3 separate regions of the Homo sapiens genome follow, and all the other regions are linked to region 3. Evidence: fine-mapped expression QTL. A gene starts in region 3. Each other region holds a variant in brackets. All regions are shown on one strand. Distances are between the middles of the regions.

Region 1 (10,312 bases), 160 kb after region 3:
CATGGCCTGGTGGGGGAGCAGCCAGTGAGTACTGTGGCAGGACTTAAACCTGGGTCTGTTTGACCCAGACCTGAGCCCTTAGCCCCAGTGATCCTGGTCTTTAGGAAGCGAGCCCTGGGCAGAGCTGAGCAGCCCCAGAGCCTGAGCCCAAGGCAAGGGCCTTTCCTTGAACTAGACTATCCAGTCACTACAGTCCAGCCTCCCTGACCACCACTCCAGTGGAGTCCTGAACATAGGCTAAGCTTGGGTTGGAGTCCTGTGTGAGCTAGGAAAAGTCTCCAAGCCCCGAAGAGAACGAATGACCTCCTCCCTACAGGATTGCTGTGGGAATGACAGGAGATGAAATGTGAGGGAGCATCCCTCAGCTCACCTGTCAGGTGGATTAATGAGCTGTGTCCTGTAGGACTGTAGTGAGGACCAGATTGGATGCTGCACATGGGGGAACCTGGCACAGGACCTGGAACTCCTACAGGGCTCAACATAGGTCCCTTTGTCCTCCTGCCTTGGCCTGGCCCCCCAGCTCTGGCCTAGACTCCCGAGTCCCTTGCAGGCTTTTCTCTACTTTGCTCCTGGCTCTGAGGTCCCTTGGGTCTCACATCTACCTCTGAACACCAAGGTCATGTAGGGCCCTGGCCTCCTGGGCTGTCCAGGATGCAGAGGAGATCCAGGTGGGGTACAGAGCTGCAGGGTCATGTGGGAAGGATGGCCTCCAGGGCCCTGCATAGTCTGATTTCACCCATCCTTCCACCCCATCCCCCTGCCCAGCTTCAGGCTGCTCCCTCCCGTTTTCAGTTCCCAGGATGTGGAGGAGTCTCTCTCCAACTTCAGACCCTAAGACATTCCTTGCTTCCTCTGCCCTTCATGCCTCCCTACCCCTGTGGCCTTCTCCGGGCTCCCCCAACTATTTGCACCCCCCATCATAGCACTTAAATATTTTGTGCGATTGTGGGTTTATTCGTGGTCTCCCCCACCCTGCTGGGGGCATTTTGCAGGTGGAGACTGTGGCTTGTTGACAGCTGTATGCACAGAAGGCAGCCCAGGGCCTGGCACTCAGTCAGATGAATGAATGAATGAATGAATGAATGAATGAATGAATGAATGGATGGGTGGGTGAATGGATGGAGGAATGAAAAAAACTGCGATGTTGCCTTCAAGTAAACGTTTCATGAATGAGTAAGTGACAAGCATCATTCTTTCAAATACTTAAAGAGCTGCCTTAGGGCAAAGGGAGAAAGGACAAAGTGATCCTGTGTAGCCCCGGGAATTGTATTTAGGACAGAATAAATGTCACAGAGGCAGATTTCAGCTGAAGGCTAAGGAAAGGCTTTCTAACAGGGCTCTCTCAATATGGTGGGTGACTTGCAGGGAGTAAGCTCTCCATCACAGGAGGTATGTAAGCAGAGGCCTGGCAGTGAGGTCTGGTGTCAGTGGCCTAAGAGGTATTTCAGTACTGCACTTGTCAGTCTGGAGTCCTGGCATCAGGGGGTTGTGTGGCCCACTTCTGGGATGATGTGGAACATTTGTTGAGTGTCCTTGTTCCCCTGGCCTTTGATGGGGACAGGACATAGAAGGAGAACATCTTATTGGGGTCTATAAAGGGCTGGAGGCACCTCATATCTCCATTTGCCTGGAAAGTGCCAGACATCTGGTCTCCCAAGACTGTGGACAGGGTAGGGCTGGGACAGAGGCTGTTGCAGGCTTTGGGGTGGGAGGAGAAGGAGGAAGGGGGTACAGAGTAGCCTAGAGGAAAGAGGCAGCTTGGGTGCAGGAGCTGAGCCTGTCCTGGGTCATAGAAGTGCTGGGTGCAGGTCCTGGCAACTCTGGCATCACACTGGCTCGTGCCTTTGGGCTCATCACTTCCCTTCCCTGAGTGTGAGCTCCACTGTCTGTCAAAGGAGAGGCAGACTCAGCGCTCCCCAGCAGTCAGGAGTACCTGTTGATGCTGTGTGTCCTTGGGCAGGTCACTTAATCTCTCTGAGCCTTTGCTTCCACATCTAGAAGTAGAGCTAACAGCAGCCACCCCCACAATCCACAGGGTCATTCTGGAAACCAAGACATATCTGTGATGGAATGTCCCTTTTTTCTTCTCCCTCCCCCCTCCCCACTTCCTTCCTCCCTTCCTCCCTCCCTCCCCTCCTCCCCTCCTTCTCCCTTCCTCCCTTCCTCCCTTCCTTCCTTAATCTTTGTTGTGCACCTACTATGTTCTTCGAAAAGCCTGAACTGAGGCTGGGCGCTGTTGCTCACGCCTATAATCCCGGCACTTTGGGAGGATGAGGAAGGTGGATCATCGAGGTCAGGAGTTCGAGACCAGCCTGGCCAATATGGTGAAACCCCATTTCTACTAAAAATTGTCTGGGCGTGGTGGTGTGCATCTGTAGTCCCAGCTACTCAGGAGGCTGAGACAGGAGAATCGCTTGAACCTGGGAGACAGAGGTTGCAGTGAGCTGAGATTGCACCACTGCACTCCAGCCTGGACGACAGAGCCAGACTCCATCTCAAAAAAAAAAAAAAAAAAAAAGCAAAAAGAAAAGCCTGAACTGTTATCCCCATCCATCGACTGTGTGTGTTTGTATATATTGAGATGACTCCACTTCACCTCCCTGTGCAGCACATCCCTCCTGCTCTGTGACCTGTGGGATGGGGATGGGGACTCCTGCTCTGAGTGCAGACACGGCCTCCTGGGAGCCATGTGCTTGGAGCTGTTCAGGGACCACAGGCCCAGCTCTCATTAAATTCTTCACTCCAGTCTGTACTGCAGGAGACCTCAGAAAAGGCAGGTTTCATGAATGAAACATCAAAATGTTTACCAAGCAGTAAACACCTGACAGCAGTCCTGGTTTCCTGGACGAGGTGACACAGGTGCCCGGTGGACCTGGTTCCTCTGGATGCTCCCTTGGGAACCTCTGGGCATAGCCTCATGGCTGGTGCCACCCCCCATCCCTGAGCATGGGGACCCGTGGGAACCCTGTATTGAGCACCCCTGTGCGGGGACTCACCGAGCGTGGGACAGGGCTGTGGTCACCCCAGGTACAGAGGAGCCACCGGGTCACAGGGGCCAAGCCACAGCCCAGGGCCCCAGCGAAAAGGCAGTGGGGCCAGGAGGGGATTGAGGCAGGCTGGTTTGGAGCCCACCACAGGCCTCAGCTCTGCTGGTGGATGAGGGTCAGGGAAGTTTGCAGGTGGACAGAGGCAGGAAGGCTAAATTGCCCTCTTAGGCTGGGCACCAAGCAGACCCTTGACACCCCTCATCTCTAGCCTCCCACCTTCCCTGTGAGATGGGCATCATGCTGTTTCCCAGCCAAGGAAACCAAGGTTCTGAGGTCACCCAAGGCCACATGGAAGTGGGAGAGGACAAGGACAGGCGGAAGGGTGGACAGGCCAGGCCAATCTCTTGTGTGTGTTTCTCTGTTGCTCTCTTTCTGTACCTACCCATTCTCTCTCTCCCTTTCTTTCTCTCTCTCTCTCTCTAACACACACACACACACACACACACACACACACACACCACACACACTCTTCCCCAGTGGCTTCTGGCCCCTCTCCTAGCACCTTCCCACTGCCTGGGTGCCCGGCCCTTCTCTGGGCAGAAACCCAGGGGCTGGCCGGGCTCCAGGTGTCTATTTTGCTCTGGCCCAGACACAGAAGCAGAGCAGGAGCCCCTGAGTGTGGGGAGCAGGGGCAGAGCCAGAACTCAGCGGGAGCGTCCTGGCCTGGACCTGAACCTGCGAGGAAGGTTTGGATTTTCAAAGCTAAGGCATGCTGCATGTTTTACTTTAAGTGTTTTCTTGTTCCTTCTCACTGGCTGGTGCCTCCCTCCCTCCCAGGTCACGAAAAGATGTTCCATCAAAAGCAAAGAGGTGATCGCACAGTTTTAAGTGTCAAAGTCAAAGCTCCATCAACGTGATCACATTGAATTCTCTGAGCCCGGTAAGGTCAGGTCATTGCTCCCATTTACAACCAAGAAAACCAAGGCCAAGGTGGGAAGTGAATTGCTGGAGGCCACAAGTTCATTCCATTACTAAGTCACCCAGACCTCTGCCCTGACCTCTAGCCCTTCCTCTTCCCCACTGTCCCATGACAGCTCTGAAATCAGCTCTGGTTTTTTTTTTTTTGGTCTTTAAGACAATAATAATCTGTGAAGTATGTTGGGAAGGTCCTAGGGGACCAGCCAGGCACAAATAAGGAAGCTGGTCCTTGCCAGTGGTCACTTCCTGAATGTGGTGGTGGCCAGTACTGGGGTGACTCTCTGAGGGGCAAGATGAGGTGTTGATATATGACTTCCTTGGGCTCAGCCAGAGCTGTCTCCAGCCTCCAGAAGGGTGACCAGACTCCAGAACTTTTTCTTACCCAGAAAGCCCCGGTGCTCCCTTCACTAAGAGCATTCAGGCTCCGTGACTTTCTTCTCAGGGTCATGGGGTCTTCAGGCTGCCCTGGGTCCAGCCCCACCCAATGCAGTTCTGCCTGCACACCCGGGGGTGAGCCCAACCCCCGCCTCTCCTTTCTGGGCAGTACTGGGGACTCCTGGAGGCCGGGCTGAGTGTGCTTCACTCTCTGTAGGGAAAGTATCCCTGGGAGGCTCTGGGGCCCTCAGGGAAGGGGCTGATGGGGGCCAGTCCTTGCCCTCCTATGGAGCCAGCATCCCTTTGAGCTTGCCTCTGGGGTCTTCTGGGACAAAGTCCAGGAAATTGGAGCTAATAAGGCCGGTCTTATGGGTCATGATCAGGATTCAAGAGTCAGAGTGTCTAGTCCTGTCCATGCTTGGCTATTATTAGTCCTCTGACCTTCTTTGTGCCTCAGTTTCTGCCTCTGTAAAATGGGGATAATCATTGCTTTCTGGTAGGCTTGTTGTGAGCAGTAAATGGATGAATTCGTGTGAATCCTGAAGGCAGTGCCCGGTGCCTCGATAGTCAGCGTTCAGTGAGTCGCAGTGTTGTTGTTATTGTTCTTATTTGGCACCACGTTTCCAGGCACAGTTTGCAGGATGACAGCTTGGGGAAGTAGCTAGAGCTTCTGATTTTCATGTTTAATGCATCTAAGTTTAGGGCTTGGAGCAGGAGAGGACATCGCCATCTGGAGGCAGAGACTCAGTTCTCTGCATCCAACTGAGATGCACTGAAATGCTTCCATTGGCAACTGGGGAGCAGGCATGAAGACAGGGCCAGATGGGACCCCCAGGGATAAGGAAATGAGGTGGAGGGACA[C/T]AGACGGGCAGCAGCGGGGCAGCTGGCCAGAGAGGCTCCCTTCAGCCCCCACACCTTCCCTCCACTGAGTGAGTCAACCTGGGCAGGCCCCAGAAACTGGAACATTGAAAAGAACATTAGTGTCCAGCATGTCCCCCATTTTACAGATGAGGCCCCAAGAGTGGAAGATCCTTGCCCAAGGTTATACAGCAAATCATTGTCCAGGCTAGGCTGAGGCCCCAGGTTTCCTGACTCCCTGTCTAGTGCCCTTTCTCCTTAGAGAGTCAGGAGAGATGAAACTGAGAGGGGCAGGGCTGACCCCCAGGGCTCCTTAACCTAGGGGTCTCTGAGAGAGGCAGGGCTGACCTCTGGGGCTACTTAGAAGCCATCAACCCAGGGTTCTCTGGGTGGAGCTTGTGACCTGGACCTCATTATCAGGGTAGGTGAATGACTCCTGTCAGTCAGATGGGGATGCTGAGGCTGAGAGAGGGCCAGGCTGGCTCAGGTGGCTTGGCAGGTAAGCAACAGGCAGGGTCTTAGGTTAAGAGCTCTTATCTCTAAGCACAGCCAGCATCCCCGAGCTGATACCTTTCATTTAAAATCTCACCTAGAGCTTTGGAGACAAAGCCGATTTTATTACAGCTTTCATGTCTTGCACAAACCATGCCCACACGCCTGTCGTCTTGTAATTATTCTTGTACCTCTCTCTGTCTCTGGGGTCTCGAGGCTCCTCCAGGCTTGTGCAGCCTCTCCTCCCACTGCCAGGCTCCCAGGGCTAACCCTCAGTGTGGCATAAAGTGCTGCATTATTTATTTCCTAATAAAAAGACAGCTTGGGTGACCCGATGGGAGATTAAAATGGATTTACTATGAGATGATTGACCATAAAACTGCAGGTTAAATCAACATGAGACGAGGTGGGGGACAAGGAGATAGAAAGTAAAGGACAGGAGCTGCTGGTGACATTAGTCAAGGGGGTTCACATTCGCACAGGTGACCAGGATTACTGTTGCCTTCAAGCTTCCTTCCAGAGAAGGCTGTGGGGGTGGCCTGGAACGAATTCTCCCACTGTGTGGCTCCAGGTGCGTCCCTTATAGTCTCAGAACCTCAGCTTCCCTATTTACTGAATACAGAGACCGAAGTAGAGGCTTCTTGCTTGGTATGAGTGGAAAGAGCATGGTCTCTGACACCAGATAGGCTGGGGCCTGGGTTCCAGCGTGCTGGGTCCCGGGAGTGGCACTAGGCAGACAACTTCTCGAAAGTTCTCTTTTCTTTCCATGGAGATGGCAGTAATAATGGTGATGTTCGTGATAATGATGATGATTATTATTCTAGTAATAATAATAATAATAGTGATAGCATAGCTAACATTCATCAACGGCTTAACTACACTTTAATACACTTAGAAAAACATCACGTGTTCTTAGTCTTTCACATACATAGAATCATACAGCCCTCACAACCACCCTGTGGGTACTATTGTTATTTCCATCTTGCAGAGGAGGTGGATTTCCCCACAAGGTACGGTAGCACCCCAGAGAGCAGATTGCTGGCAAGCCTGTTTGGCACCACAGTGGGTTTCCTGCTTGCCAACCTCAGCTTGTGGAATCTCAGAAACTTCCTTACCATTCAGTGGCTACAGCCACACCCTCTCCAGTGAGGTCTGAATCATAGCACGGGAGTGGGAGTTCTTTCAAATTTGTTTATCCCTTGAGTACTCTGCCTCAACTCCACATATTGGCTATGTCTGCCTAGCATTCTCTTTACTCCTTAGTAATTAATGCCATCATTAGGCAATCATTCTTCTCTCTCTTTTTTTTTTAGAGGGGCGTCACATTCTGTTGCCAAGGCTGGAGTGTAGTGGTGCAATCATGGCTCACTGCAGCTTTGAACTCCTGGGCTAGGCAATTCTCCCACCTCAGCTTCCCGAGTAGCTGGGATTACAAGCTTGAGCCACTGCTCCCAGCTCTAGGCAATAATTCTTTATATCAGGCTTTTCCTGATAAAATTACTGTGTGATCCTGCCTTCTGACTAGATCCCAACTGACATAGAATTGGTACTAAGACTGGTGCTGGGATATAGACTAGCAACGATGGTATTTATAATTTTTAACTAAACTTTAAAATGATAAAAAACCATTCTTAGCTCATGAGCCATGCAAAAATAAACCGTGGGTTAGATTAGTTTGTCAACCCCTGGCTTGGAGATACAGTCTGATGTGGTTTGGATCTGTGTCCTCACCAAATCTCATGTCAAATTGTAATCGCCTGTGTTGGAGGTGGGGCCTGGTGGGAGGTGATTGGATCATGGGGTCAAAGTTTTCATGAATAGGCTAGCACCATCCCTTAGGTGCCGTTCTTGTGATAGTGAGGGAGTGAGTTATCATGAGATCTGGTTGTTTAAAAGTATGTATCACCTCCCTCCTCTCTCTTCCTTTTGCTCCAGCCATGCAAGATGTACCAGCTTCCCCTTTGCCTTCCACCATGATTGTAAGTTTCCTGAAGCCTCCCCAGAAGCTGATGCTGCCAGACTTCCTGTACAGCCTGCAAACTGGGTAATTTATAAAGAAAAGAAGTTTAATTGAATTAAAAAGTTAATTAACTTTTCCTTATAAATTACCAAGTCTCAGGTATTTCTTTATATAATTTTTTGTGAGAATTGGTACCAGGAGTGGGATATTGCTATAAGGATACCTGAAAATGTGGAAGCGGCTTTGGAACTGGGTAACAGACAGAGGTTCTAAGAATTTAGAGGGCTCAGAAGAAGATAGAAAGATGAGGGAAAATGTGGAACTTCCTAGAGACTTGTTAAATTGTTGTGACCAAAATGCTGATAGTGATATGGACAACAAAGTCCAGGCTTAAGAGGTCTCAGATGGAGATGATGAAATTACTGGGAACTGGAGTAAAGGTCACTTTTGCTATGCTTTAGCAACGAGCTTGGCTGTATTGTGCCCCTGCTCTAGGGATCTGTGGAACTTTGAACTTGAGAGTGGTTATTTAGGGTATCTGGTGGAAGAAATTTCCAAGCCATAAAACATTCAAGATGTGGCCTGGCTGCTTCTTTTATATATATATTTATTATACTTTCAGTTCTAGGCTACATGTGCACAATGTGCAGGTTTGTTACATATGTATATATGTGCCATGTTGGTGTGCTGCACCCACTAACTTGTCATTTAACATCAGGTATATCTCCTAATGCTATCCCTCCCCCCTCCCCCCACCCCACAACAGGCCCTGGTGTGTGATGTTCCCCTTCCTGTGTCCAAGTGTTCTCATTGTTCAATTCCCACCTATGAGTGAGAACATGCAGTGTTTGATTTTTTGTCCTTGTGATAGTTTGCTGAGAATGATGGTTTCCAGCTTCATCTATGTCCCTACAAGAGACATGAACTCATCCTTTTTCATGGCTGCATAGTATTCCATGGTGTATATGTGCCACATTTTCTTAATCCAGTCTATCATTGTTGGACATTTGGGTTGGTTCCAAGTCTTTGCTATTGTGATAGTGCTGCAGTAAACATACATGTGCATGTGTCTTTATAGCAGCATGATTTATAATCCTTTGGGTATATACCCAGTAATGGGATGGCTGGGTCAAATGATATTTCTAGTTCTAGATCCCTGAGGAATCACCACACTGTCTTCCACAATGGTTGAACTAGTTTACAGTCCCACCAACAGTGTAAAAGTGTTCCTATTTCTCCACATCCTCTCCAGCACCTGTTGTTTCCTGACTTTTTAATGATCGCCATTCTAACTGGTGTGAGATGATACCTCATTGTGGTTTTGACTTGCATTTCTCTGATGGCCAGTGATGATGAACATTTTTTCATGTGTCTGTTGGCTGCATAAATGTCTTCTTTTGAGAAGTGTCTGTTCATATCCTTTGCCCAATTTTTGATGGGGTTGTTTGTTTTTTTCTTGTAAATTTGTTTGAGTTCTTTGTAGATTCTGGATATTAGCCCTTTGTCAGATGAGTAGATTGCAAAAATTTTCTCCCATTCTGTAGGTTGCCTGTTCACTCTGATGGTAGTTTCTTTAGCTGTGCAGAAGCTCTTTAGTTTAATTAGATCCCATTTGTCAATTTTGGCTTTTGTTGCCATTGCTTTTGGTGTTTTAGACATGAAGTCCTTGCCCATGCCTATGTCCTGAATGGTATTGCCTAGGCTTTCTTCTAGGGTTTTTATGGTTTTAGATCTAACATTTAAGTCTTTAATCCATCTTGAATTAATTTTTGTATAAGGTGTAAGGAAGGGATCCACTTTCAGCTTTCTACATATGGCTAGCCAGTTTTCCCAGCACTGTTTATTAAATAGGGAATCCTTTCCCCATTTCTTGTTTTTGTCAGGTTTGTCAAAGATCAGATAGTTGTAGATGTGTGGTATTATTTCTGAGGGCTCTGTTCTGTTCCATTGGTCTATATCTCTGTTTTGGTACCAGTACCATGCTGTTTTGGTTACTGTAGCCTTGTAGTATAGTTTGAAGTCAGGTAGCGTGAAGTCAGGTATGTTCTTTTCGCTTAGGATTGACTTGGCAATGCGGGCTCTTTTTTGGTTCCATATGAACTTTAAAGTAGTTTTTTCCAATTCTGTGAAGAAAGTCATTGGTAGCTTGATGGGGATGGCATTGAATCTATAAATTACCTTGGGCAGTATGGTCATTTTCATGATATTGATTCTTCCTGTCCACGAGCATGGAATGTTCTTCCATTTGTTTGTGTTCTCTTTTAATTCACTGAGCAGTGGTTTGTAGTTCTCCTTGAAGAGGTCTTTCACATCCCTTGCATGTTGGATTCCTAGATATTTTGTTCTCTTTGAAGCAATCGTGAATGGGAGTTCACTCATGCTTTGGCTCTCTGTTTGTCTGTTATTGGTGTATAAGAATGCTTGTGATTTTTGCACATTGATTTTGTATCCTGAGACTTTGCTGAAGTTGCTTATCAGCTTAAGGAGATTTTGGGCTGAGACGATGGGGTTTTCTAGATATACAATCATGTCATCTGCAAACAGGGACAATTTGACTTCCTCTTTTCCTAATTGAATACCCTTTATTTCTTTCTCCTGCCTGATTGCCCTGGCCAGAACTTCCAACACTATGTTGAATAGGAGTGGTGAGAGAGGGTATCCC
Region 2 (10,312 bases), 68 kb after region 3:
CACTTAATCATCTTGCATACCTACGATTTTCTGAAACACTTTGGCAACCACCAAATTAGGCCAGTCTTTTCTCTTTGGACCTCAGTTTCCCCATCTGTAAAATTAAGGGTTTGGGCATCCCACCACAATGGCATAACTGGTACTTGATTTGCCATCCAGCTGTAAGCAACCAGTAATCCAGCTAAAATATAGGAATCAATTGCTTTCAGACATTGAACTATAGGCAGCTGAAGACCGTGGTTCCTGAGAGCAGAGAAGCAAATGAGGTGAAGTCATCTTCAAACCATGGCACAGGAAGGTGGAACCCAAGCACAATGGGGCAGCCTCCCTGCCCTGGTTGGAGTTTGAGGAAGTTGAGCTCATCAGGGGGTCTCCTGGTGATCCTGCATTCATTCTACCAGTTAGTTGCTGAGTAGGAATTCTAGGCCAGGCACCGGAGAGGGTTCTTGCCGGGAGGGTCATTTCAGTTGAGAGTTGAAGGATGAGTATGAGTTCATCAGGCAAGAAAAGTAGGGGGAGGAGGAGTTTTGGAGGGAGAAGGACAGCATATGTGAAGGCACAGGGAGTGGGGGCAGGTTATCTAGGCCCCACTGACAGTCCCCCACTGGACCCTGCCAGCTTAGATCTGGGCAGAGATTGGCTTGAAAATGTGGGGAGGGCTGGAGTTGAATAAGCCCCTCACAGCCTCACCCAGAGCAGGAGGAGGGACATGCGTACAATCATGCACTGCATAATGAAGTTTTGGTCAACAATGGACCACGTATACCATGGTGGTCCTATAAGATTATAATGGAGTTGAAAAACTCCTATGACCTAGTGACATTGTAGCCATCATAATGTCATCGTGCAATGCATTATTCACTTGTTTGTGGTGAAGCTGGAATAAACCTACTGCATTGTCAGTTGTAAAAAAGTCTAGCACATACAATTATGTGCAGTACATAATAGTTAATGATGACTGTGTTACTGGTTTATGTATTTAATATACTATTAATCATTATTTTAGAGTGTACTTATTTTTTAAAAAGTTAACTGTAAAACAGCCTCTGGCAGGTCCTTCAGGAAGTGTCCCAGAAGAAGGCACCATTTTCTTTCTTTCTTTTTTTATTGTACTTTAAGTTCTAGGGTACATGTGCACAATGTGCAGGTTTGTTACATATGTATACATGTGCCATGTTGGTGTGCTACACCCATTAACTTGTCATTTACATTAGGTATATCTCCTAATGCTATCCTTCCCCCCTCCCCTCATCCCATGACAGGCCCCGGTGTGTGATGTTCCCCGCCCTGTGTCCAAGTGTTCTCATTGTTCAATTCCCACCTATGAGTGAGAACATGTGATGTTTGGTTTTCTGTCCTTGCAACAGTTTGCTCAGAATGATAGTTTCCAGCTTCATCCATGTCCCTACAAAGGACATGGACTCATCCTTTTTTATGGCTGCATAGTATTCCATAGTGTGTATGTGCCACATTTTCTTAATCCAGTCTATCACTGATGGACATTTGGGTTGGTTCCAAGTCTTAGAAGGCAACGTTTTCATAGGTGATGACGGCTACGTGTGTGTTATTGCCCCTAAAGACCTCCCAGTGGGACAAGATGTGGAGGTGGAAGACAGCGATACTGATGATCCTGACCCTGTGCAGGCCTAGGCTAATGTGTATGTGTGTGTGTGTGTGTGTGTGTGTGTGTGTGTCTTAGTTTTTAACAAAAAAAATTTAAAAAACGAAAAAAAATTTTAAATAGAAAAAAGTATAGAATAAAGATAGAAAATATTTTTGTATAGCTGTACTATGTGCATGTCATTACAAAAGTCAAAAAATTCAAATTAAAACATTTCAGTAAGCTAAGGTTAATTTATTATTCAAGAAGGAAAACTATTTTTAAATAAGTGTATTGTAGCCTAAGCATACAGTGTTTATAAAGCTCACAGTAGCGTACAGGAATGTCCTAGGCCTTCATATTCACTTACCAGTCACTCAGTGACTCACCCAGGACAGCTTCCAGTCCTGCAGCTTCATTCATGGTAAATGCCTTATACAGGTGTATCATTTATTATGATTTTTTTTTCTTTTTTTTGAGACAGAGTCTCGCACTGTCACCTGGGCTGGAGTGCAGTGGCGCGATCTTGGCTCACTGCAACCTCTGCCTCCCAGGTTCAAGTGATTCTCCTGCCTCAGCCTCCCAAGTAGCTGGGATTACAGGCTCGTGCCATCATACCCAGCTAATTTTTTGTATTTTTAGTAGAGACGGGGTTTCACCATGTTGGCCAGGTTGGTCTTGAACTCCTGACCTCATGATTCACCCACCTCGGCCTCCCAAATTTCTGGGATTACAGGTTTGAGCCACCACACCCGGCCCATTTATTATTTTTATAGCGTATTTTTAGTGTGCATTTTCTATGTTAAGATACATAAATACTTACCATTGTGTTATAATTGCCTACAGTATTCAGTACAGGTTTGTAGCGTAGGAGCAATAGGCTATGCCGTGCAGCCCAGGTCCATGGAGTAGGCTCTACTATCTGAGTTTGTGTAAATACACTCTGTGGTGTTCGCACAAAGACCAAATCACCTAACAATGCATTTTTCGGAATGCATCCCTGTTGTTAAGCGATGCATAAGTATTAAATGAGTGAGTGGGCGTGCGTGTCCCAAGGCGGGTGTGGCTATTTTCTCAGTCCCAGGACCTGATCTCCAAGACCAGAGTGGGACGTCCTTGGGAATGCTGAACAGAACAGCCGGGGACGGGGTGGTCCTGGGGGCTCGGGGGAGGATGGTTTCCCAGGGTGTGTGAGGAGCTGTGGACCTCTCCACCCACTCCCCCACTGGCTGCGGCCCCGCACAGGCTGACGGTGGAACTGCCTGCGCAGGAGAAAGGCGCCTATTCGGGTGCCTGGTGTTAATCTGCAGAGGGGTTGGCAGCAGCTGCTAATTTCTGATTTGCCTGTCTTTGAATGGGGGTAATTGCTGGGAGTTGCCAGTGTTCCAGGTTGTTCTCTGGAAGAGGGGGAGGAAGAAGCAGCTGTCATGGGCTCTGCGGAGTGCTGCCTTCTGCAGGTAGCATGGTGAAGCCTCGCTGGATAGAGTGAGGGGATAATGAAATCTAGCCAGGCAGGGCCGCAAGGGCCCTCGGAGGCCACCTGATCTGACCGGCTCATTCTACAGGTGGAACCGAGATTTGGAGGGAGGGAATGTGTTCAGGACCACACAGGGTGGGCCTGGCTAGGCTGCTTGGCTCCAGCCAACAACCCAGCTATGCTTGGCATTGGCTGTGCCTCCCCACCCCCATAGACCCCAGTCTCTCCAGGACCCCCGAGGCTGGGGCATGTGTGTCAAGAACCCTTTTGTCTTTCTCTGACTGCAGGAGACCAGCGCAGCGGTGGGGTCACTGAGGCCAGCAGCCTCCTGGGGGGCTCCCCGAGGCGTCCCTGTGGCCGGAAGGGCTCCCCATACCACACGGGGCAGCTGCACCCTGCGGTGCGTGTCGCAGACCTTCTGCAGCACATCAACCAGATGAAGACGGCCGAGGGTTACGGCTTCAAGCAGGAGTATGAGGTGCACGCCGGCCCCGGGCCAGCAGGATCCCTGCAGAGGCCTCACCTGGCTCTTACTCTCTGTGGACTCTGACCCTGGCAACCCTCAGCCTAGTCCTGGTTGGACGCCTGCTCTGACAGTTTCCAACTCAACCTTTTTGACCTCGACTCTGACCCTCATCCTAATTTTAGACTGATTTGGTTTTTCACTCTCATGCTAACCCTGATTTGAAATCTGACCTTGAATCTCGTCTCCATCTCTATGTGGACTGTGATCGGGATCCTTATTCTGTCCCTAAACTGAATCTGCCCACTGACACTGACCTTGACCTAATCCCAGCCTGACATTGATCCTGACTGTCATCCTAAGCTCCATTTGAACTCTGGATCTCATCCCACCTCTGTCTGGACTCTGACATCACCCTTATCCTAATCTAAATCTGACCTCACCTTTACCTTCTTTCTAACCGTTATTCTAAGCCTGACCCTTATTCCAAAATGTCTTTGAACCCTGGCCCTCTTTTCCTCTTTTCTCATTTCCCTTCCCCCCACATGCCTTGGTTTTGACCCTGGTCCCTGGCTGATAAAAGGACCCACAGTGACACAGTGACTTTATCTCAGGCCCAAGTTCAGCTTGAATCTGGCCCTTATCATCCCACCCCCATCCTGCCTACATCATCCCCACTGAGGGGAAGGGGCCCTCAGTGAGGGTCCCTCTCTCCCACTGACCACCACTTTTCTTTCTGGTAGAGCTTCTTTGAAGGCTGGGACGCCACAAAGAAGAAAGACAAGGTCAAGGGCAGCCGGCAGGAGCCAATGCCTGCCTGTGAGTCCTGGGGAAGGGCCTGGGGTCCAGGGCAGTGGGTGGGAGGGCATCAGGAGGGGGAACACAGCCAGGGTGAGCTGGGGCAGCCTCAGAGATGATAGTAGCATTGGCCACCTTTTATTGAGGGCCTACCACACGTCACGCCCTGTGCTTGTTTCATTTATTCCCTTCAATTTCCCTGTGAAACGGGAAATACTATAATCCCTGTTTTACAAATAAGGAAACTGAGGCTTGGGAGATTAAGATTCCTGCTTAAGGTCTCAGAGCCAGTAATTGCCTGAGCAGCATACACTCTTAGGCCTCCTTGACTCCATAGCCCAGGCTCTACCCCCTGGTGTGTCCTGCCTCCCATGGTGCCCAGAGACTACTGGTAAGCCCTGAGACTCTAGGTTCCCTGGCTGCCCTGCCTGTGCCCTATCCCCTAGCCTCCAGGAATCCCTCCCTGACTGCCTAGCTCTGGGCTCCCCAGTTCAGCCCCTGCCCACCTGCTCTGTGTTTACAGATGATCGGCACCGAGTGAAACTGCACCCGATGCTGGGAGACCCCA[A/G]TGCCGACTACATTAATGCCAACTACATAGATGTGAGTGCCTTGCCCTGTCATTTCTGCAGACCTGGCCCTGCCCGCTCCAGGCTTACTATCCAGGCAGGGCAGAAACCTGTCGGGATAAATGGGGGTTCAAATGGCTGAGTTCGGAGTGCCCCTATCTCTGCAGTCAGTGCCAGGGAGCTCAGAGGAGGGAGGACAGTGAGCAGCAGCTTCTGGAAGGCTTTCTGTAGGTGGGAGTTGGCCTGAGAGATGAGGTGCTTTAGAGAAGCAAAGCAAAGGGAAGAGGCAGACAGCTAGGCCAAGAGGTGAGGAAGGCGGGAGGCATGGAGAATGGGATTCTCATCGTGCACCATGAGGCTGAAGAGGTAGGCAGGGGCTGGATTGTGAAGACCTCAAATGGCAGGCTCAGGAGTGGGGGCTTTTTCCTAGGGGCACCAGGGAGTTGTTAAAGTGTTTTGACCATGATCAGAGTGGTCCTTTAAGAATAATAACGCACATTTATCCAGCACGTACTGAGTGCCAAGCACTGTGCTAAGCACTTTACACCCAAGATCTCCTTTTCTGTAATCCCTCCACCCACCCTTTGAGGCAGTTAGCACCATGACCTCACTTTACAGGTGAGGAAACCGGGGCTCAGAGACGTGGAGCGACTTGTCCCAGGTTGCACAGCTAGTGAGTGGTAAAGAAAGGACGCAAATCTCAGCCTGTCTGTGTCTCTAAAGCCTTTGCTGCTGTGAGGCTGTCCTGCCCCCTGCTGCAGCAGCAGCAGGACTTGGATGGATTGGAGGGAGGGGCCAGAGACAGAGCAGGCAGCCAGGAGGCCTGGGCTTGGGTGTCAAAGAGAGGTGATGAGTCTACTTCCTAGGTGTGGAAGAGGGGCGAGGCGGGACAGGGCCCCTAATCCCTACAGCAAACCAAGTTTGGGAGAGCATCATTTAATCACGTATGAAATATATTTTGAGCACTTCCTTTGTGCCATGCATTGTGCTGGGCACCAGGGATACAGATGTGAACAAGACAGTCATGGCCTCTGCTTTCCTTGAACATATCTATTTGAGTGGGTGAGACAGATAGACATGTTTACAAATCAAAATAACTTCAGATTAGATGAGCAAGTGCAGGCCAGGAGAGAGATCACACAGCTTGAGTGTTACACAGCAGGCTAGTGGCAGAGCCAGGGCTGGTGTGGCGGGCTTTGTGGAGGAAGCAGGGCTTGAGCTGCCTCTGGGTGGCTGGAGAGGAGAGGGAAGAGTGTCCCGGGTGAGGAGCTGCCTAAGCAAAGGCCTGGGGGGCCAGGCAGAGCAAGGCACAGGTCTGGGAGCCGAGGTAGTCAGGGTCTCTGGAGGTGGCCTCTCCTCTCCCTCTTCTTCTCCTCCTCCTGGGGCCAGATGTGCCATGCCATGTTTCCCAGAATCCCTTGCTGCCTCCCCCACTCATCCTGTCCCTTGGTTGGAGTCAGGGCCAGGCCCAGCCTGGAAGACTTGGGCAGCTTTGGTGACAGCGGGCCTCTCCTTGGTCTTGCCAAGGTCCCAGTTGGCTCCTCTTGGGCCCTGGCAGGGACATGCCACTCCCCACTCTGTGGCTCAGCCCAGCCCGGCCTGCCCGTCTCCGCTCTGCCTGCCCTGCTCACATCGCCCATTCTGGCCACTCCTGTGCTCCGTCCACCTCCATCTGCCCCTGGCCTAATATCTGTCTCTTTTGCTTTGTACTGTTTCCTCACTGGAATCATTAAGATTCGGATAAACCGAGAAGTAAGTATCTCTCTCCCCTTCTCCTCCTCCTCCTCTTCCTCCTGTCTGTCTGACTGGCTGTATCTCAGACTCTCTCACGGTCTCTGGCTGTCTGTCTCTCTGTCTCTGTCCTTCCTTTCTACTTATGTGCCCAGCACCAACCGTCCATTTCAGCAGCCTGGCCAGGGGCTGCCCAGGGCTGAAGATTCGAGAGTGTTCCTATTGTAAGCAGTTCCCTCCCATCCTCCACTGCCTTGAGCAGGGGCAGCAGTGTTGGGGGTGCTTCCCCTGCCCATTCTGCACTGGTCACAACAGTCTGTCACCTTCCTTCCCTGGCTCCGCCATTCCCAAGGAGTCCTCCCTAGCCTCCCTAGCTGCACCTTCTACAGGACCCTTTGGAGGGTGCAGGGGAAGCTGCCCTGGAGGGCCCTGTTTCTGCTGCTTAAGGGTCAAGATCTTGGACAGCCCCAGGTCAGCCTCCTAAAACTACTTTCCCTAGTGTTCAAATACCTTCATGATCAGTTTGCCTGAAACTCAACCCCGACCATTTTACCCTCAATTTAGCCTTAATTTGAATGTTTTTTGGTGGAAGCAGTTTGGATAGTCTGTTTTTAAATATTATGCTTTTTTTTTTTTTTTTTTTTTTTTTTTTGAGGTGGAGTTTCGCTCTTGTTGCCCAGGCTGGAGCGCAGTGGCACGATCTCGGCTCACTGCAACCTCTGCCTCCTGGGTTCAAGTGATTCTCCTGCCTCAGCCTCCCAAGTAGCTGGAATTACAGGCATGCACCACCACGCCCAGCTAATTTTTGTATTTTTAGTAGAGATGGGGTTTCACCATGTTAGGCTGGTCTCAAACTCCTGACCTTAGGTGATCCACCTGCCTTGGCCTCCCAAAGTGCTGGGATTACAGGCATGAGCCACCACACCTGGCCCATTTTTTAGCCTTTTAAAATTAAAAAAACTACCCTAATTCATCTAGCTATTCTCTAATTTGATTTCTTTTTTCTTTTTTTTTGAGACAGGTTCTTGCTCTGGAGTGCAGGGGTGTGATCATGGCTCACTGCAGCCTTGAAGTCCTATGCACAAGCAATCCTTCTACCTCAGCCTCCTGAGTAGCTGGGACTACAGGCGTGTGCTGCCATGCCCGGCTAATTTTTTCCTTTTTTTTTTTTTTTTAAGAGATGGGGTCTTCTCAGCACTTTGGGAGGCCAAGGCAGGCAGATTGCTTGAGTCCAGGAGTTCGAGATCAGCGTGGGCAACATAGTGAGATTGCCTCTACAAAAAATACAAAAATTAGCTGGGCGTGGTGGCTCATGCCTGTAGTCCCAGCTACTAGGGAGGCTGAAGTGGGAGGGTTGCTTAAGCCTGGGAGGCAGAAGTTGCAGTGAGTCGAGATCGTGCCATTGCACTCCAGACTGACCAACAGAGCCAGTCCCTGTCTCAAAAAAAAAAAAAAAAAAAAGAGAGAGAGAGATGGGGTCTCACTATGTTGCCTAGGCTGGGGATTTTTAATACATATATACTGTTTTCATAATATTTAATGACTGGTGATTATTTGCTATTTTGTGGGTGCTTTTTCCATTTTGTCTCCTTTTTCTTTTAAAAAATATATTTCTTGGCTGGGTGCAGTGGCTCACACCTGTAATCTCAGTACTTTGGGAGGCTGAGGCGGGAGGATTGCTTGAGCCCAGGAGTTAGACCAGCCTGGGTAACATAGTGAGACCCCATTTCTACAAACAAACCAACAAACAAAAATTAGTTGGATGTAGTGGCCTGTGCCTGTAGTCCCAGCTACTTGGGAGGTTGAGGTGGGAGGATTGCTTGAGCACTGGAGGTCGAGGCTGCAGTGGAGACAGTGGCATGGAGCGACAGCAGGAGGGAATTGGGCTAGACGTGGAGAAGTTCCAGTGCTGAGGGCTGAGAGTCACTGGGAGGCTTTTCGTCATTAGTCACTTTGACTATGTTTTGGTCATTTTCGTGGGAACAGTGAGCAGGTATCCAGCAGAATCTCTGAGTGTTTGTCTTGCTATTATCCTCATATTGCAGAGGAGAACAAAGGCTTAGAGAGGCCAAGAGCCTGGCTACTCAGGATGTTTTGAGGCCAGCAATATGGACACCACCTGGGAGCTGGTGATGCATAATCCCGGGCCCCACCCCAGACCTTTGAATCTGAATCTGCCTTTTAACAAGATCCCCCGGGAGATTTATGTCTCAAGAAAGACTGAGAAGCACCTTCTCAGCGCTCAGAGTTACACAGCTACTGCTCGGCATAGCTGTGGCAGGGACCCAGGTCCATTCAACTCCAAGACTCAGATTCTTCACCCCATAGTCAATCGCCTTCTGCCCCAGCAATTCTTGACTTCCATTTGATACACTTGATTCATTTGTATCTTCAAGGATACTGCTTCAGCTTTAAAATAGTAGTAGTAATAATAATGGCTATTACTGAATAAGTACTGACTTTGTGCTAGACACAGTGGCAGACATTTAACATACTACTTTATTTGCTTCTCACAACAGCCCTCAGAGGTAAATGCTGTAATTATTCCATTTTATAGACATGAAAATGGAGGCATAGAGAAATGAAGGAGTTTTTGCTCAAAGGCACACAGCTAGTGAGAGGTAGAGCTGGGATTTGAACCTTGGCAGTCTGGCCCCTGGGCTCCTCAGGCCTGGGAAGTTCACGAGACCGGAGGAGTTGCTGGGAGCTGTGTTGAGGGTGTAAACTTGAGGTAGGGGGCTGGGCTAGTTTTCTCAGCGCCAGCCCTGCAGTACTAATTCCCCTTTCCGCATTGCCCGCATTGATGCCCTTGGTATCTGGTGAATTCTTTTGCTCAGAAAGATGAGGCCTTGTGGCAGGACCTCATGGGTGGCTGTGGCCCTGGGGTGGCTTGTCGGAGGGCAGGTTTCTCTCCTCAGCTTGGGGGCTCTGGGGATGGAGGATGAAGTAGCTCTTGGCCTCTCTCTCGTGGGAGGTGGTACTGGTAAAGTGCTTAGCACAGTACGTGACCATAACAGGGTCATTATTATTGATCTTAAAGATTTTAACATTTTATCCAAGGGCCATGAGTAATGTCTGTGCCCATATACTTCCATCCTGAAGCCCTCATCTAGGCCCCCCACGCTCTGAGTGACTGAGGAGTAAGGGGGAGGGGTACTGTCCATTCTGGTTATCCCAAGTGTGGGGGCTAAGATAACTGACAAGCTCTGGTTATCCCACGTGTGGGATCTGGGTTGATTAGAGCTTCTGGAACCCTGGGAACAGGGCAGGGCCATTGGGGACTCTGTCTCCGAACAACAGCCTGGCTGAAAGCAGATGCCTCTCTCCACTTTATGGGTGGGGGGTCCCTCTAGGCACATAAAGGAGTCATGTCCTCCCTGGGGTTGCACAGCCCAGGTTGGATTAAGCCCACGACTCTGGTGTCCCAGCTGTACTTCTCCACTTCCTTGGGGACCTGGGGGGATGCAAAGTCATCCTGCTTAGGAGGTCCTAGGGATGTGAGGGAGCAGTTCCCTGGTGGGGTAGGGGTTCTGCTGCTGGGAGGGGAGGGTAGAGGAGGTGTGGGGGAGTGAGGGGCTACTCCCTGGGGTCTAACCGTGCCCTCTCCTCCTGTTCCAGGGTTACCACAGGTCAAACCACTTCATAGCCACTCAAGGTACCTGGCACTTCTGCCCACA
Region 3 (10,312 bases):
TGAGCCAGGGCTTTGAAGGATAAGGAAGAGTTCCTTTCCTGGATTTTATTGACTTGAAGCTTGCCATCTCCAAGCCTTTCCTCTGAGGAAGAGAGCACAGCAAAGTACTGTGAGCTAGATTTGGACAAACCTGGCTTTATGTCCTAGCTCTGCCATTTTCCAGCCATTTGATTTCGGACAAGTCACCAGGCCTCTCTGTGTCTTCACTTTCTTACTCTTAAAATGGAAGGAATACTAGTTATCTGTTTCAAGATTGTTGTGAGGGTCAAGTGAGATATTATCCACTTGAAGCATTTAGTACAATGCTTGGCACATGGAAGCATTTGATAAATATTATCGGGGGTTATTGTGATTAAATGAGAAATATCACACATAAAACCCTCAGACTAGGGTCTGGCTTATAGTATGTGCTCACTAAATGTCTGTACTTGTTTTTATTATTAGAGAAAGTTGGTGTCCCATGGTGGGGGAAAGGCTTGGCCCCACATTTATGTGCCAGCACACACACGATGACCAGTCCTGCTTACCCTTTTCCCCAGTGACACATAGGCTTACTTGAACTGGGAAGTACAACGTAACCTTCTGTTGTAAGACTCCCTAGGTGACATTGAGATGTCGACATTCTCTTCTTCACCAAATTGGCTCCTCTGAATTTCTGGGGAGCCCAGTCAGGAAGCCTGAAGAATCATCCAGCAAGTCCTCCTCCTTGGGGCTGGACTTTAGCCTCCTGTGCATCCCAATAGCCCTCACTTTTAGTCTAGGCCATCTGGGTTCTTGCAGGGGCATAGTTTGAGAACTACTGACTGAGGGGTTCAAGTCCAATTTCCTGGACTTGCATTCAAGATTCTTTGCACTCTGACTCCCACACTGCATTTCCAGCTTCATCTTCTCCTGTTGGACCGTGCATAGCCTGTGATCCAGCTGCATCTGATACCCGTCTTCCCCAGTGTGTCTTGTGCCTTTATTCAGGCCACTCCTTCTGCCTGAAATGCTGTTCCCTGCCTCGGAAACTCCAGGTTCAGATGTCATTTCTTTGATGTTTCAAAACTCCCTAGGTCATCTGCTGCTGCCTTTGTGTTTTCCCTGGAGCTGTGTTATGGCCTTTAGTACATCGTCTCTTATTTATTCCCCTCCAGGCAAGACTGGAGCCATGTTTGGTTTATCTCCATAACACCAGCACCCGATATGAGCCTGGCACAGGGTAGGTGTCATAAATATTCCATGAGTTGCAGGTAATTGAATTTCCTCATGGCCTAGAACGGTCTGTGGTGCCATCTCCTTTTCCCTAGATTTGGGCTGGTCACTCCAGGCCAGGAATTTCCTTCTTCCTTCTTCTCTCAAGGATTATAGAAGTCTGTGGTCTTTTTTTTTTTTTTTTTTTTTTTTTGAGACAGAGTTTTGCTCGTTGCCCAGGCTGGAGTGCAATGGCGCGATCTTGGCTCACTGCAACCTCCGCCTCCCAGGTTCAAGCAATTCTCCTGCCTCAGCCTCCTGAGTAGCTGGGATTACAGGTGCCCGCAACTACGTCTGGCTAATTTTTGTATTTTTTTTTTTTTTAGTAGAGACAGGGTTTCACCATGTTAGTCAGGCTGGTCTCAAACTCCTGACCTCGCCTCTGCCTCCCAAAATGCTGGGATTACAGGTGTGAACCACTGTGCCCGGCTGAAGTTTGTGGTCTTTTAAAAGTAAAGCAGAAAGTCCTCTTCTCATCTGTCTACCTGTTGCTTGTGTTCTCTTTCTCCCTCCATTATAGTCTCTGCCATCTTCCCCTGCACAAAGGGCAAAGGGATGTGGAATCAGTCAGATCTGGGTTCAAATCTAGGGCCCGCCGTCTATTTACTAGCTGTGTCACCTTAGGCAAGTGTCATATGCTCTCTGAACCTCAGTTTCCACACCCGTAAAATGGGATCACTGGTAAAACTCCTATTTTGAGGCTCTCTCAAGAGCCCTCTGCAAACAGCACCCTTGGTTGTTTCTTCTGTTCACTGGTTTTCTCTCCTTGAGTTTCCTTTTCTGGGTGGGCCTCTCTGGCTCCTCTCTGCTCCAGCGTCTCTGTATCTTAGTTTCTTCCCTAAGGTTTCCCCTTGGTTTCTTCTTGCTTCTGCCTCCCTCTCCCTATTTAATTATCTGTGTCTAATTCTTGCCTGCTGTGTCTTTTGGTCCCTTTCCTAACTCAGTGTGGAGCTCATCAGCTCTCACAAGAGAGGAGACCAAGAGCCCAGGAACTCTCAACCCAGCGATACCTCCTCCAGCCCCAGGGCAGCTTCAAGGTGTGTCCATCTCAGCATGAAGCCAGCTAGGAGGGGCAGGGCACAGGGAGGGCCTACATATACCTTGAACTCCTACGCTTTGTTCAGTGTCACTGCCCAGTGGTCAGACCCATCTGCCCATGGCTTTCCCTACTTCAGCAGTCTTTATAGCTGGAGCTGTAAAAAAAAAAAAACAAAAAAAAAAAAACCCAGAGATCAGAACTTATTACTCCTTATTACTCCTCTGCTTAATTACTCCACTTCAGTGGCCTCCCATTAATTACTCTTAGGGTTGAACCTCAAGCCCCTTCCTTGCTCATAGTTTCTTGCCTGACCTACAGACCCTGCTGACTTGTCTAGCTGCACCTGGCTCCCTTCTGCCCCTGACTCACTCCATGCCAGCTGCCCGGCTTCCTTGCAGCTGCTTGTACCCACCAGCTCCTGCCTTTGCACAGGCTGTCCCCTCTGACTGCAATGTTCCTCTCCACTGATTTGCATGAGGTTGGCTCCTTCTCATACTTCAGGTCTCAGTTCAAATGTCACCATGTCACTTCTATAGCAAAGCCCTCTTGGACCACTTATCTAAAGGAGATGCCCCTTCCCTATGTTCTTTATCATTATACTCCCTCGTTTCCTTTAGCTTGCATATCTTAGATGGTAATGATATATTTATGTACATGTTTGCTGTTGGGCTCTCCTAATAGAATGTAAGATTCATGAAGGCTAGGACCATTTCCCTTTCATTCATTCCATCCAGTCAGTATTTATTGAGCATCAATTACGTGCCAGAGGCCGGGCGCGGTGGCTCACGCCTGTAATCCCTGCACATTGGGAGACTGAGGCAGGTGGATCACCTGAGGTCAGGAGTTCCAGACCAGCCTGGCCAACATGGTGAAACCCTGTCTCTACTAAAAATACGAAAATTAGCCGGGCGTGGTGGTGGGCACCTGTAATCCCAGTTACTTGGGAGGCTGAGCCAGGAGAATTGTTGGAGCCTGGGAGGCAGAGGTTGCAATGAGCCAAGACTGCGCCATTGCACTCCAGCCTGGGCAACAAGAGTGAAACTCCATCTTGAAATAAAATAAAATAAAATAAAATAATAAAAACATGCCATATACTGGGCACGGAAATACAAGATGAGTCTTTTCCCAAGGGAGCTCATTTCTAGAGGTGGAGACAGATAATGAACTCATCATATAGCCCGCACTCTATTTGAAATTGCAACAATTCCCCTTCCCTTCCCTGTCCCCCCACCACCCCCAAATTTCCTGGTGTATGAGACAGTGATAAAGGACGTACACCAGAGGGTTTGCTTTTTTGTTTTTGTTTTTTTGGTTGTTTACTGTTCTTGTCTTCCCACTGGAATGTAAGGTCCATGAGAGTAGGGAATTTTTGTCTGTTTTATATCTCTACCCTGGCCTATAGTAATTGTTGAATAAATGAATAGACCCCAATAAATATTTGTTGAATGAATAGGTGTCCAGATGGGAGGAAGGTCTCAGCCCCTATTCAATTCAAACCAAACAACTTTGATTCAAATCTCGGTGCTGTCAAATACTGTTGCATAACAGTATTTATGCAGTATAATTATTGCATACCTAATATATGATGATTAAATGAGTCCATGTGGGTTAAACACATAGAAGGTACCTGGTCTTACATAGTAATGAGCAACGAGTTTGCAGATCATAGTGCGAGGGCTCGTTCTGGGTAGAGGCCCAAATACATTTAACCTGTGTAGCCAGAAGGTAGAGTAGGACCAGTGAGGGCTAGTGAGGGAGGTAGACTTGCACGTCATGAAATGAAAAACTTTCTAAAAGCCGGCGTTTCCAAAGCCCCAACAACCGCTCTTGGCCAGGTGATGAGCGCCCTGTTCCTGGAGGTATGTAGAACACGCATTTGAAGGCGCCAAGGTACAAGGGATTCAGGCATCGGATGGGACAGAGGCCGGGTGTCCCTGGGTCACCGTCCCTGAGAGCGCTGTACGGGAGCTAGGCGTGGGCCATGAGCGTGCTCGCCTGGCAGTGTTGGTGCCCGGTCCGTGGAGACGTCCGTGGGCGTCCAGACCCAGCCGCGGGGCCTCATGGCGGGGAGGATGCGGGAGCGGGGGAGGGGCGCGCCAGGGCTAGCGGGCGGCCGGACCCGCTGCAGCACCCGCCGTGGCCAGCAGGGAGCGCCGCGAGACCGCCGAACCCGCGGCCGGGCCTGACGTCAGCGCCCCGCTTGCTCCGGCTCGCGCTCTGGACTCGGCGCCAGTCCCGCTCCGCGCCGCGCCGCTCCGCTCCGGCTCGGGCTCCGGCTCGCCTCGGGCTGGGCTCGGGCTCCGGGGGCGGCGTCCCCCGCGCCGGGCCCCGGGACGGGCGGCGACGCTCCAACCATGGCCCGTGCCCAGGCGCTCGTGCTGGCACTCACCTTCCAGCTCTGCGCGCCGGAGACCGAGACTCCGGCAGGTAAGCGCGCGGCGGCCGGACCGAGCCTGCCCCGCCGAGCCTCGGGGCCCGTGGCGTAGCTCGGAAGAAAGTGTGAGTGTTGAGTGACCGGGCGTTACGAGCGTGCTCCCTGTGTGTGTCTGAGCGTAGGATGGGCGATTGTGTGCCCGGGGTGTTGCGTGACTGCGAATGTTGTGTGTCCGTGAGTTCTGTGCGCAAGAAAAGGTGATGTGTGTCGGCGAGTATGTTGGGGGTGAATGTTGTGTGCATCGAGGCATTGGGTGTGCGCTGAGTGTCTTGTGGGTCTGCCAGTGTGTAGTGTTTGTGTGGCCAAGTGGGTTGTGTGTGCATCTGAGTTTGGTTGTGTTGCGGGAGTTGTATCTGCTAATGTGTTGCATTTGTTTGCATTTTGTATGCCTGGCCGGGAGTGCTGTTTGTTTTGTGTCTGCGAGTGGGTTGTGTGTTTGTGTTATGCCTGTGGCCAAGGGTGCTCTCTGGATCCCGCCTGAGTGTGGATCCGGGAACGCGTGTGTGGCGTGTGTGCTTTTGAGATCCGTGTACATGTGTGAAGGCGTGGGAACGGGTCCGGAACGTGTGTGTCCGTGCGCTGTGTACGTGTGGGGAGTGTCTAGGGTATGTGGTGTGTGCTGCCGGGGGCCGCGTGGGTCCGAGTGAATGCCAAGTGTGCCGGGAATGCGTGTGTGGGAGCGAGTCTGGAACGGATGTGAGTGTGTGCGAATGTGTCCGTGTGTGCTGGCTGCGCGTCCAGGAATGTTGCGAGTGTGGAGCGCGCCTGGGCCGCGGCTGCGAGTGTGCCCTGGTCCCGGGGCCGCCCGAGGGGGCGGTGGCAGGACGTGTGTGCGCGCGTGTGCGTGTGCGCGTGTGTGGCGCGCTGGGCCGGAACAAGTTGTCGCGGCGGCGCCCCCTGGGCTGCCCGGGTCGGGCAGGGCCCGAGGCTCAGGGGAGGACCGGGCCCCGCGGCCGCCGCCTCGGGCATGTCGGACTGTTTGTTGTTTCGCAAGTTCCGCGCGGCGCTGGCGGGCGGCTGATCCGAGGCGGCGCCGGGGCTGCGGGGCGCCCGGGCCAGCGGGCCCCAGCGAGGGGCCGGCGGGCGGGCAGGGGAGGGCCGGACCGGCGGGCGCTCCTGCGGTGGCCGGGCCGCGGCTGCGCCCCGGGCGGCCGGGCGGGGGCTGTCCCCGGGCTGGGCTGCGACGTCCGGGCGCGGGCAGGGCCTGGCTCGCCGCCGGGGGACGGCGCCCCCTCCCTTGGCGCGCAGGACGCGCGGGGGACGCCCGGGCCTCCCGGGACACTCCCTTGGTGGAGCCTGCAACTTTGTGCGGCCTCCCGGCCGGCCGGGACCGCCAGGTGTGTGCTTGAGTGTGAGCGTGAGTGTGAGCGTGTGGCTCCGCGCTTGTCTGCTGTGTGGTCGCGTTCTCCGGGTGTGTTTCGGAGTCTGGTGTCTTTGGTGTGCGTGCGCGTGTGTGTGTGCGCGCAGCTGAATGTATGTATACGGAGCCTGTGTTTGTGTGTCCGTGTGCTCGTCGGAGTGTGGACGGTGTGTCGGATGTGTGTGCGTGCGCGTGTTCCACATCCCACCCTGAGGCCTGGGATCCTAGACCGCGGCCCCTTCCCGCGGAGTTTCGGGGCCCTGCTCCGGGTGACCTCCCCCGCCCTCGCCACCGGCGGGGCTGCTCCGCGGGCTCCGGGTAGCCGGGAGACGCCCGGGGCGGGATCCGAGCCGAGACACGTGCTGGAGCGGAGCCGCTTCCTCACGGTCGCCAGCCGCAGACAACTGACCTCCCCGGCATCGCGTTCGCGGCCCTGCTGCTGGCTCCGGTGTCTCGGGCCGGAACTCCTGTGGCTCCAGCGTTCGCGCCGGCCACTGGCCAGCGCTTGGGCCTCGCCCTGCAGCTCCGGGGCCATAGGGCACAGCTTTAGCTTTGACCTCCCCGTTCCCGAAAGGACGCCCAAGGCGACCTCCCACCCCATCCTCCCCAACTTCTCCCCCATGTCCTGCGGCAACTTTGCCTCCCTCTCCCACCGTGAAATCAAACCCGCGGGGTTCTGTATGCGCCCCATCCCCGCTCCTACCACCATCGCTTTGATTTCAAGAACACTCACAAGCCCCAAGCCCTGCCAGCAGGAGGACTGTCAGGAACTGAAGTTTGGGAGTGAGGCCTAGAGCAGGTTACTCCCATTCTTGATGCCTCAGTTTCCTCTTCTGCCTCATAGCCATCATGATAATGGTGTATGGCACTTTTGGTAGATACCAAGTACCTTGTAAAGTAAGGCTCTGTCTGTGAGTGCCAGGGAACAAAAAATGGATTTGAGAGTTGTTGCAAAGCCCCAGACAGAGGCTGTGATTTAAAGCTGGGGTATTAGGTGTCAAATTCTGCCTCTGCTACTTGCTATTCATGTGATGTCTGGCAAATCACCTCACTTGTAAAGTTCCTGGCCCCCTTTGTTATTCTTAGAGATGAACTCAGAAGCCCAAGTAGAATAGATGTGATACCCCTTGTCCCCAGTCTGGACAGAGTCAGCCCAGCTCCCTGAATGGCTCCGGAGCTTCCGGGTAGGGGCGGTGTGTGATGCCTTCTCAGCCTTGCAAACCTGGTAGTTATTTATTCTGCTGTGTTCTTGCTATTTTGTCCTTTTGGTCGCAGGAGTTGTGGACGGCAGGAATGAGGGAGTGGCTGCCCAGTGGTTTCAGGTTGGGCAATAAAGGCTTGTCTGGGCATCCCTCCCTTTTCCCTGGGGCTAGGGGAGGGGACTTAGCAGGAAGCAGTGACAGTGGCCGAGGTGGGGACGCTGAGCTCCTGGACAGCCTGCTGCCCAGCTCTGGTGTCAGAAAAAACCTAGGGCAAGCATCGTGCTTGATGGAGACAGGCCACCATCCTTCCATGATTTTCATCAGCTCAGCTGGGCATATGGGGTGGCCTTTCCATGCAGGACTGGGTTGGCCAGAGTTGCAGGGGGTACCTTGTGCTCCTCCTTCCTCCCCCTCCCCCCTTTTCCTAGTTGCCCTCCTGCATCCTGGAACGTCCTGTCTGCCCTCTCAGAGACTCTTTCATCTGTCTCCTTCTGTCCGTCCTCAGCTATCTTTCACCTGCAGGAAGACTCCAGCCTCCTCCTTCCCTCTTTCCCTCATGGTGCCAGGGATCTTTGTAAAGTACATTTTAACTCAAAGGGTTTAAAACCCTTTGAAGGCTCCCCATTGCCTTCAGGGTGAAGTCCTTATCCCTTGGCCCTGTTGCTGGCTCTAGCTCCTGCCTGCCTGTCCAGCTGCATCTTGTTTTGTGTCACTGCCCCTTGCATCCTATGATCTGGCCAGCCTGACCTTCTTACCAAAGACCCAAATGCCCACAGCCTGCTGTCTCCTCTCTGGGCCTTTGGGCAAGCCGTGCTTTCTCTGCAGAACTTTCTAACTCCAGCTTTTTGCTGGTGAACTCCTGCAACTTGATGGGCTCTCAGCTGTAAGCATCATCCAGTCCCTGAAGCCTTCCTCGGTGATGCCCTGTCCTAGCCTAGGAAGTCGGGGGGTGGGGGTCAATTGGATTTTTACATAGCATTGTAATTATTGTAATTACAGTTTATTAGTGCTGTCTCCCTTACCAGACTGAGAGCTGAGGACAGAGACTGGGTTTTTAGTTTACTTCTGAATCTTAGTGCCAGGTACAAGGCCTGGCCCACCGGGTCTGAATAAATATATATGGCCTGAAAGAATAAAGTTTAAGGGGGCCAGGTTCAGAGGTGGAGATGCCAGATGGGGGTGCACTGATTCCACTGAAGGTAGAGATTGAAGAACCAGGTTTCCCTCCAGGAATCTGGAAAATTCCTGGAGGGTGGGGGATGGTGTTATGTTGTGAAAAGGCCATGTTGAGAGTGTCATCTGGGAGCTTTGAGTTGGGGAGGTTGAGTCCCTGGCAAGAGACTGAAGGGAACGGGCCTCCTGCCTGCCAGCCCCTCCCCCAGGCTCTGGCCCCACCCCTAGCAGCTGGCAGGGCCCTTCCAGCCCCCAGTCTCAGGCTTTTGTGATGGGGCCTGGCAGTTGGTGAGACGTTGAGTCTCAACGGTCTGTGTGAGTGGCTGGGGAGGAGGGAGGGAGCCCGCAGGGCCCTGTGTTAGGAGAGGGAGGGAAGCTTCCTGGAAGACCCTCCCTTAGTCCTCAGTCCTAGATCCTAGGGTGGGCGGGTGGGGTCACAGCCTCTGTTCTCACCGCTTGTGCACCGGAGGGAAGGGAGGAGAACTGCATCCCGTGGTGGCCCTGGCAGATGGGGTTGGGGAGGCTGGCTGAGGTGTGTGCAGATGTGACTCTAGCATCTGGGCAGTCAGAGTGGGGGGTGTGTAGGGATTGTAACTAGGGGCATGGACACATGTGACCTGTTAGGGTGTCTAGCCATCTGGTTATCGTGTGGTGTGGCAGGATCTGAGTTTGGAGTAGGGAGGTAACCAGCTGCTTTGACCCCTGGGGAGCCTGGTGCTAAGGGTGTCTGGCTATCCAAGTATCACATTCCTGGAGTTGGGTGCAGAGCTATTTGGATGGGTGGTGTCTCGCTATCTAGGTGTGGACAACCCAGTACCAGCATGTGGGAGGATCAGGGTGTGCAGACAGAGGCTATCCCAGCATCCCTGGGGCTGGAGGTGGGTGTATCCATGTGTCTGGGAGTCCTCAGGTTAGTGGGTATTTATAAGTGGGGAGTGTCTCTGTGTTGTGTCCAGGTATGGGGCTGGCCAGGTGCCTGAGTGTCTGGTTGTAGGGGTCCCCAAGTGTCCGGGTATCTGAGGGTGGGGGTATCTGTGTATGAAACAACAGGGACCCAGTCATTGAAGTATCCAGTTGTTAGTGAGTCTGGGTGTGGGGTGCCATGTGTCTATTTTTTTTTTTTCTTCTTCTTCTTCTTCTTCTTCTTTTTTTTGAGATGGAGTCTCACTCTGTCACCCAGGCTGGAGTGCAGTGGCGTGATCTTGGCTCATTGCAACCTCCGCCTCCCGGGTTCAAGTGATTCTCCTGCCTCAGCCTCCTAAGTAGCTGGGATTACAGGCGCACGCCACCATGCCTGGCTAATTTTTGTATTTTTAGTAGAGACTGGGTTTCGTCATGTTGGTCAGGCTGGTCTTGAACTCCTGACATTGTGATCTGCCTGCCTTGGCCTTCCAAAGTGCTGAGATTACAGGCGTGAACCACAGCGCACGGCCTTTTCTTCTTTTTTATTCAGATGGAGTCTCGCTTTGTCACCCAGGCTGGAGTGCAATGGCATGATCTCGGCTCACTGCAACCTTTGCCTCCTGGGTTCAAGCGATTCTCCTGCCTCAGCCTCCCGAATAGCTGGGATTACAGGCACCCGCCACCATGCCTGGCTAATTTTTGTATTTTTAGTAGAGATGGGGTTTCACCATGTTGGCCAGGCTGGTCTTGAACTCCTGACCTCAGGTGATCCACCTGCTTCGGCCTCCCAAAGTGTTGGGATTACAGGTGTGAGCCACTGTGCCTGGCCTCATGTGTCTATTTGTATGTTTAGATGTGGAGGTGCCCTTGTGACCTATGGTGGTGTCCATGTATCCAGGATGTGTCCACAAGGGGTGTGGACGTGTTGGGTGGGAATGTCCTGGTGGCTGTACCCAACTCAACCTCTG

Alleles and levels. Alleles are on the strand shown, and positions count from the first base shown. SD is a standard deviation of normalised expression in the study named. Not every link is listed here.
For the expression in cerebellar hemisphere of the gene that starts at base 4,504 in region 3, allele T in region 1 goes with a lower level than allele C (large effect, 0.82 SD a copy in GTEx).

Evidence for each region. PIP is the estimated chance that this variant, and not a neighbour inherited with it, causes the effect.
Region 1: its variant is fine-mapped to the expression of PTPRU in cerebellar hemisphere (GTEx, PIP 0.98).
Region 2: its variant is fine-mapped to the expression of PTPRU in tibial nerve (GTEx, PIP 0.96).

The regions. Positions count from the first base shown.
Region 1 is chr1:29,391,803-29,402,114 of GRCh38, forward strand. No RefSeq gene overlaps it. Among named protein-coding and RNA genes, the nearest start is that of LINC01756, 47 kb to the left of the region's middle. RefSeq lists a silencer at 2,661-2,861. The variant C/T (reference allele first, on the strand shown) is at 5,202.
Region 2 is chr1:29,300,491-29,310,802 of GRCh38, forward strand. PTPRU (protein tyrosine phosphatase receptor type U) reads left to right here. Exons shown (of 30, transcript NM_133178.4): 16 at 3,365-3,555; 17 at 4,284-4,359; 18 at 4,862-4,938; 19 at 10,254-10,290. Among named protein-coding and RNA genes, the nearest start is that of LINC01756, 44 kb to the right of the region's middle. RefSeq lists an enhancer at 10,204-10,312. The variant A/G (reference allele first, on the strand shown) is at 4,907.
Region 3 is chr1:29,232,019-29,242,330 of GRCh38, forward strand. It overlaps PTPRU (protein tyrosine phosphatase receptor type U), which reads left to right and starts at 4,504. Exons shown (of 30, transcript NM_133178.4): 1 at 4,504-4,699. The coding sequence starts at 4,627. RefSeq lists a silencer at 4,307-4,626.